Linked DNA regions of Homo sapiens. The protein of the gene in region 1 interacts with the protein of each later gene in a pairwise test. Each region holds a gene or a part of one and is shown on either strand. Other genes may lie near its edges.

What was found.
Region 2: the proteins of KCNIP4 (region 1) and LITAF interact in a two-hybrid assay, tested with the Homo sapiens proteins (one large-scale study listed by BioGRID and IntAct).

The regions. Positions count from the first base shown.
Region 1 is NC_000004.12:20,846,718-20,850,539, reverse strand, and holds part of KCNIP4 (Kv channel-interacting protein 4), read left to right. Parts: intron 1-3,822.
Region 2 is NC_000016.10:11,559,411-11,563,232, forward strand, and holds part of LITAF (lipopolysaccharide-induced tumor necrosis factor-alpha factor), read right to left. Parts: intron 1,757-3,822; exon of another isoform or gene 1,736-1,756; intron 1-1,735.

The DNA.
Region 1 (3,822 bases):
AGAACTTTCTTTTTGACTTTACCTTCACACAATTCCCAGAGGAGCATTGAGAAATGAGAGGAAAAGGGGGAAAATATCCCATTCTATGAGAGCCCCATCATATGTATATTTCATACTGATCCTTCCCAGATAGGAATATAATCAGTATCTGTGGACTTTGATTCTCTGTGGCACACCCATGCTGGCATACTGTGATTGCCCATTAAACAAAGAGTTTCTGAGAAAGTTTTATTCAATTCAGTTCTTGGTTGAAATATTTTCTCTTCATCAACTATAATGACATAATTTCATTAAACTTCCATTGTTTCCTTAGTTTTTAAATACAGGCTGGTGCTTGACTTGAATCTTGAATGTAGATTGAGGCCTATCAAGGGATTCCATTCCTGGAATTGGAGGATAATTACTGTAACTTTTATAGTTTAAAAAACCATGCTGCCAATGTCTGTAAACCACAGGTGTCTGTAGGTCATCACTGTACCTGGTTCTCTGCAATCCAGGTGTGCAGATGACCCTCCCTCCTGGGTGAACCATCTTCAAAAGGGAATGAGAGCCCAGAAAACCCCAGAGGGTGGGGTGAGAGAAAGTGAGTGGATCCAGGCTGACTATGAGACACAGTCTCTTACCAAATACTTTGTATGTGCTAAGGGTTAAACTAGATGCTGCAGGTTATTCAAAAGCCAGAGAAGATACACTTCTATCCTTAAGGAGCTTATGGTCTGAATAGGGAGAGAAAACTTGCTGTCATGAATCTATCTGAAAACAGTTCATCCTTAAAGGCATCAAATGTTTATGTATCAAATAGCATACACATCCCAACATATAGTTTGTTCTTATACATATGGAAACCAAAGTAGCTACAGGCACCCCTGGAGATCCAAATTAAATTGCTTTGATCCTTTTGAAACCCAGCCCCTAAGAACCCCAGTTCCAGTGCGTGTAGAAGTCTGTGATGTCCAAGGATTTCTTCTAATGCCATCCTCTTCACATCTGACCACCACAACTGCTGCCTTTGTCCAACCTTATGCAGACTAGATATGAATCTCTACCTCTTCTTTGGAATCCACAACAGCAATTTACTCAGAGAATTCATACCGGTAGTTGACACTGCAGAATATTTTTATAGGGTTTCTGCATGCGCATTGCACACAAGTTTCCACCATCTGTCTGAATGAATGGAGTCTGTCTTTCTCCCATTTCTGCTCCTCAGCCCCTTCTCCTTGCCCTGGGCTTTCTAAGTTTTTCTCCCTCTATTATGCAGAGTAAATTTGTTTCTTCTCCAAAATTTGATCATCTGCAAAGACCTAGGACTTCGTGGCAATAGGTGGGGGCAGAGGAGATTATAATGGAGATGAGTGCTCACCACACACACAGACCACTGATTAAAGGAATCTGATAGGTAATATATCAAGACAATACATACAAATAAACATGCATAAAGGGAAAAGGGTTTTGACAACCAGGAAAGAGGATGAGTAGTTATGCCTATTCTGCAGTGGTTCCAGGCTTCAGAGACAGCAGGTATTTGCAATGAAACAGTGGTATTGACCACTGGCAGCAGAAAAACACTGAGCAGCAAGGACAGAAAGGAAAGGAGGTGTAAAAGACCAATCTGGGCCAAAAGTCAGTGCTCAGAGGAGGTGAATCACAGAATAAAACTTCAAATGTGTTCATGTGAACACCTAAACTTCTTTGCTATAATTCAGAGATCTAGTAATAAGCAGACTTTTTTTTTCTTTTTAACATTGGATTGTACATCAGATACAGAATGTTTGTTGAACACAGGAGAACTGAATCCAATCTCTCAGCATCCCTGTATTCCTCGACTGCTGCTATGTTATTATTCCAATGCCATCCCCGTAGGGTTTCTCTGTTTGGGGTCTGGCTGCCTTTCATTGCATTTGCTATAAATTGGAATCATGATTACTGCCATCATTAATCTTTGGAGCCAGCATCTCTGCAGCATGTCTAATACAAGTGGCACTTCACAATAAATTGCTAGGCTCCAAAGTCTGCATTCATTGCTTTATTTTTTTTTATTTTATGTTTTTTTTTGTTGCCCATATGTCCTTCTCTTCTTCCTTTTCTCTCCTTCCCCCATTTTCCCAAACTCTTTTCTTTCCCCTTTTTTAATCCTTCTGACCCCACCTCTTATTTCTTCACTCCTCCTTGCTTTCCTTTTTTTCACCTCTTCTGTCTCTTCCCCTTGTGAATTATTGTCTCCTTTCAGCTCTTCCCCATCCTCCTCTTCCTCTATTTTTTTCTCTTCTCTATCTTTATTGATTTCTCTTTCTCCCATCTCACCCTGCCCCATGAGACAAATTTCCATCAGACCTGAATATGCCAAAGGCCTATTTTATATACTTCTTTAAAAGAAAGGACTTCACAGTTTGCTCAGAAAATATTAATCGACATCTCTCATAAATCAAACACAAGTGGCCTTTTAATTTTTATTTCCCCCTAGTCAAATGTACAATTCTAATAAATGAACCCTAAGCATAGCCGAAATACACTAAGCAGGTCAGCAGCACTTGGGTTTTACAGCATGGTAGTAAGCTGAAGCAGCTTCCATCCAAGAAAGCAAACCAACTGCCTTGGTTCCCTAAACACCAATTACCTCAAAGCCCTTAAGATCACAAACTCATTTCCCTGGAAACAGTTGGGATATTCATTTTTAATGAAACTATTAAAACTCTCCATACTGTGATTCAAAGGATAAACCATTCGTCAACATATTAAAATGGTCACACTTGTGTGAAAGTAGCTCAACATAGCCAGGCACCCCTGCAAGTAAATATGACCAGCATAACTCCACCAATTTTTTCCCATATGGTATCTCTGATACATCCCCTAGCATTTTCAACATAGATTGTTAATATAGATTGGAAATGAGAGGAAGGGAAGATAGTGAGAGAAATATCTCCTCCCTCACACAGGCTTACTCACTGAGGCTCCCACACATTTTTAGGTCTCTTGCCAGATTCTGAGTCTCAAAAGTGAGCAGCTGATAGAGACAGAATACAGTACACTGTCCACCTATAAGGAGCCTCAGAATCACCTGAAGGGCTTGTCAAGACACAGATTCCTGGGCCCCATCTTGAAAGATTATGACTTAGTAGAGGTGGGATTGGGTCATAGAATTTGCATTTTCTTTTTTACAAGTTCCAAGGTGATGCTGATGCTGCTGGTCTGGAGCCCACACTTTGAGAATCACTGGTTTTGTGCAGTTATCATAAGCTTCGGTGTCACTCAGCCTCAGGTCATGTTACTCATTTGGGCAGTTCCCTCTGACTCAGGAGACGATGTGTCTTTGTCTATAAACTGGGATAATGATAACTAGATTGCACTTTTTTAAAGAAATAAATATAATAAACATGAAGTTCAATAAAAAGGAGTTATTATAGTATGGCCCCAAATGGTCAACCTCAGTTGTATGTTCCATCAAAGTGGGACAGTCGTGGTTGGCCTACATACTTCCCAGGCAGTGTTTGGGTTTTGGACTACATAATTATATATTAGGAAGGATGCAGAAAATGCAAACTATTATCTACAGATCAGCAGTCTCAAAATTAAATGCACGTTGCAACCATCTGGGGAGCTTTACAAATTAAAAATAGTGGCTACTATGCTTGGTGATTCTGATGTAATTGCTCTGGGAAAAAGCTTCAGCATTAGGATTTATAAAGCTCTTCAAGTAATTATATTGTGTAGGCAAGATTGAGAACCATTGAACTAGATATATAACATATACAAGGTGCTTCTAGCACAAAAAGAAATGACCTATTAGTGATGAGCTCTATCATGACAAATACCAATGACTAGGCT
Region 2 (3,822 bases), on another chromosome or scaffold:
TTTATGTAAGTCTGGGACAACTTGAATATATGAATCATTTTTTCAATGGTAAATTTGATGAACACTGAATATAGATCAAAATGTTTTTTGATAAAAATTTAGCATTCAATTTGGGATAGAATGTCAATGTAAAAATACACCCTGGGTTTCAAAACTTAGTAGGAAAAAATGAATGTAAAATATCTCATTAATAATTTCTTATATTGATATATTAAAATGACCACAGCTTAGATATATGAAGTTAAGTAAAATGTATTGTTAATTTCACCTGTTTCTTTGTACCTTTCAAAATGTGGCTACTAGGCCGGGCATGGTGGCTTACACCTGTCATCCCAGCACTTTGGGAGGCTGAGGCAGGAGGATGGCTTGAGCCCAGGCATTCTAGATCAGCCTGAGCAACATAGGGAGACACTGTCTCTACAAAAAAATTAAAAATTAGCCAGACATGGTGGTGCACCCCTGTGGTCCCAGCTACTTGGGAGGCTGAGGTGGGAGAATCACTTAAACCCAGGAGTTCAAGTGAGCCGTGACTGCGCCACTGCACTCCAGCCTGGGCGAGACTGTCTCAAAAATAAATAAATAAAAACAAAATAAATAAAAAAGAGGCCAGACACAGTGGCTCACGACTATAATCCCAGTACTTTGGGAGGCCAAGGCAGACGGATCGCCTGAGGTCAGGAGTTTGAGACCAGCCTGGCCAACATGGTGAAACCCCGTCTCTACTAAAAATACAAAAATTAGCCAGGTGTGATATTGGGCGCCTGTAATCCCAGCTACTCAGGAGGCTGAGGCAGGATAATCACTTGAACACGGGAGGTGGAGGTTGCAGGGAGCTGAGATTGCGCCATTGCACTCTAGCCTGGGCAACAGAGTGAGACTCTGTCTCAAAAATCAATAAATAAATACATTAAATGTGGCGGCCAGGCACGGTGGCTCATGCCTGTAATCCCAGCACTTTGGGAGGCTGAGATGGGTGGATCATTTGAGGTAAGGAGTTCGAGACCAGCCTGGCCAACATGGTGAAACCCCATCTCTACTAAAAATACAGAAATTAGCCAGGTCTGGTGGCGTGCGCCTGTAATCCCAGCACTTAACCTGGGAGGCAGAGGTTGCAGCGAGCTGAGATCACACCACTGCACTCCAGCCTGGGCCACAGAGCGAGATTCCATCTCAAAAAAAAAAAAAATGTAGCTACTAAAAAATTTTAAATGATGTAATGAAGCTTGCTTTCTGCTCCTAATATACAGCAAAGCTGTGAGCCGTGGGAGTCACAGAAGGTTATAGAGAAGGGGAAAGGCCCAACCCCAGAAAAGACAGATGAGACAGAAGGTCTTTAAGAGGAGCAAGAAGCAAAGTAGAGAAGGCCACAGAAGCAGGAGGGCAGGGTGGGGCTGTAATGAGATCGCAGGAGGTGTTTGTGAAAACAGGCTCTGGTTTAACACTGAGACATGGTGTAAAGTGGTTTGAGGCGTGTTGCTAGTTTCCTCTGACGTACAGGAACAGAAATGCAGCAGTCCCAGCTTGCCCCTAAACTCAGCGGACATCCCTCCCAGATGACCCCGGGAACCCCTGACATCTGCTTCTGGCTTTGTTGAAACTTCCAGCAAAGGGAACGACAGGGCACCCTGGGGGTCTGGAGTGACCTACATCCGGGTTGAACGTCGAGGACTCGCCGTCACAGCCCCAGACCCACCTCCATGATTTATGGTGAAAACTGACTCGTATAAAAACTTACAAGACCAGGAAAAGCCAGTGTGTACAGAAATCCTCAAGGAGCATGGTTGGTCGTGATTGCCAATGGAATGCTTTGAGGGAAAACAAGGCCTGGGGCATCCTAAACCTCCAAGAGGCAATGGCTGAATTCGGCAGCGGCGCAATTCCTGCAAAAACCACGGCCTCTCCTCCCAAAGTGAGGAAACTGCATCTTTACAGAGTCAACACACAGGTGTGGGGGATGGGAGGATGGGAGCTTTCTTTTGACGACCTTTAAAAGATGGGTGGGCCCCAGTTTCTCGTTTTGGAAATTAAGGCCTCGGCCACCGCCTCTCCCCCTTTATTGAGACCATCTTTCATGTGGTAACATCTTATCTTCTGGGATTTCGAGACACTGCATCTTCTGAGCATTGCTTTGAGATCAAACAGCCACACAAACACATTTATAATTCTGAAAAGAACAAGAGCAACAGGCCAGAATAGTAAAAAAGACTCATAACCGCTGGTTTGGAAGTTTTCTAAATAAATTCCACAGTCTTCCCTCCCTCAGGCCCCAAGGCCAGGAAATGCCACCACGGTTAGTCCCATTTTGTTTCCCTTGTTTTGCGCCTTCATTTCAATTTGGCTTATCTCCTGGGATAAGAGGCCCACCCACCAACCATCCCTCTCCTCATCACCCCCCATCCCCTCCTTATCACCCCCCCAACTACGAAACTCTTAGAACAGCAATTAGTCCCCCTCACCCTAAACTCACACACACACTCTCCACAATGTCTTTTTTTTAAAAAAGAGGGAAAGGGAGAAAGAAAGAGAGAAACAGGGTCTCACTCTATTGCCCAGGCTGGAGTACAGTGGCATGATCATAGCTCGCCACAGCCTGAAACTCGTAGACTCAAACAATCCTCCTGTCTCAGCCTCTGGAGTAGGTGGGACTACAGGTGTGTGTCACCATACCTGGCTATAACTTTTTAATTTTACTTAGAGACAGGGTCTTGCTAAGCTGCCCAGGATGGTCATAAACTCCTGGGCTCAAGTGATCCTCCTGCCTCAGCCTCTCAAAGTGCTGGGATTACAGGCATGAGCCACCGTGCCCTGCCTCTCCACACTGTGAACCTGGGAGATGGAGGCTGCAGTGAGCCGAGATCGTGTCACTGCACTCCAGCCTGGGTGACTGAGCGAGACTCCGTCTCAAAAAAAAAAAAAAAAAAAAAAAAAGAAGGAAGAAAAGAAATTCGAACACTTTTTGAACAAAGGGCCTCGCGTTTCCATGCTGCACTGGAGCCCAGAAATTAAGTAGCCAAATGTGACCGGTGGTGACAGAAAAGGAAAAGGAGGCATTCCTGATCCATGGAGAATTTTGATCTGACATGCCCAGCTGTGGAATCACTTTCACATCTATAAATATGCCACTTGGGATATCTTGGGGTCCCTTTTAGCCAAAAGTTTTCCTCATTCTACCTCTCAACAATTTGCTCAACGAAAGGTATTCTTGCCCAGGCATGTTGGATCACGTCTGTAATCCCAGCACTTTGGGAGGCCGACGTGGGCAGATCACTTGAGCCCAAGAGTTTGAGACCAGTCTGGGAAACAAATTCAGACCATGTCTCTACAAATGGTACAAAAATTAGCCGGGCGTTATGGCAGATGCCTGTGGTCCTGGCTGCTCTGGAGGCTAAGGTAGGAGGATCACTTGAGCCCAAGAGTTTGAGACTGCAATAAGCTAGGATCACGCCACTGCTCTCCAGCCTGGGTGACAGAGCAAGACCTTGTCTCAAAACAAAAGAAAAAAAAATAGAGTCACAAAATCATATATAAAGACAATCTTTAAAAATTTTTTTTAATTAAAAAATATATATTAGCCAGACACGGTTGCACAAACTTGTAGTCCCAGCTATTAAGGAAGCTGAGGTCGGAGGATTTGCTCGAGCCTGGGAGCTTGAGGTTACAGTGAGCTGTGATCACACCACTGCACTCCAGCCTGGGTGACAGAGTGAGACCATATCTCTACACAAAAAAATTATAATAATAATAATTTTTTTTTTTGAGTCAGAGTCTCACTCTGTCGCCTAGACTGGAACGCAGTGGCGTGATCTTGGCTCATGGCAACCT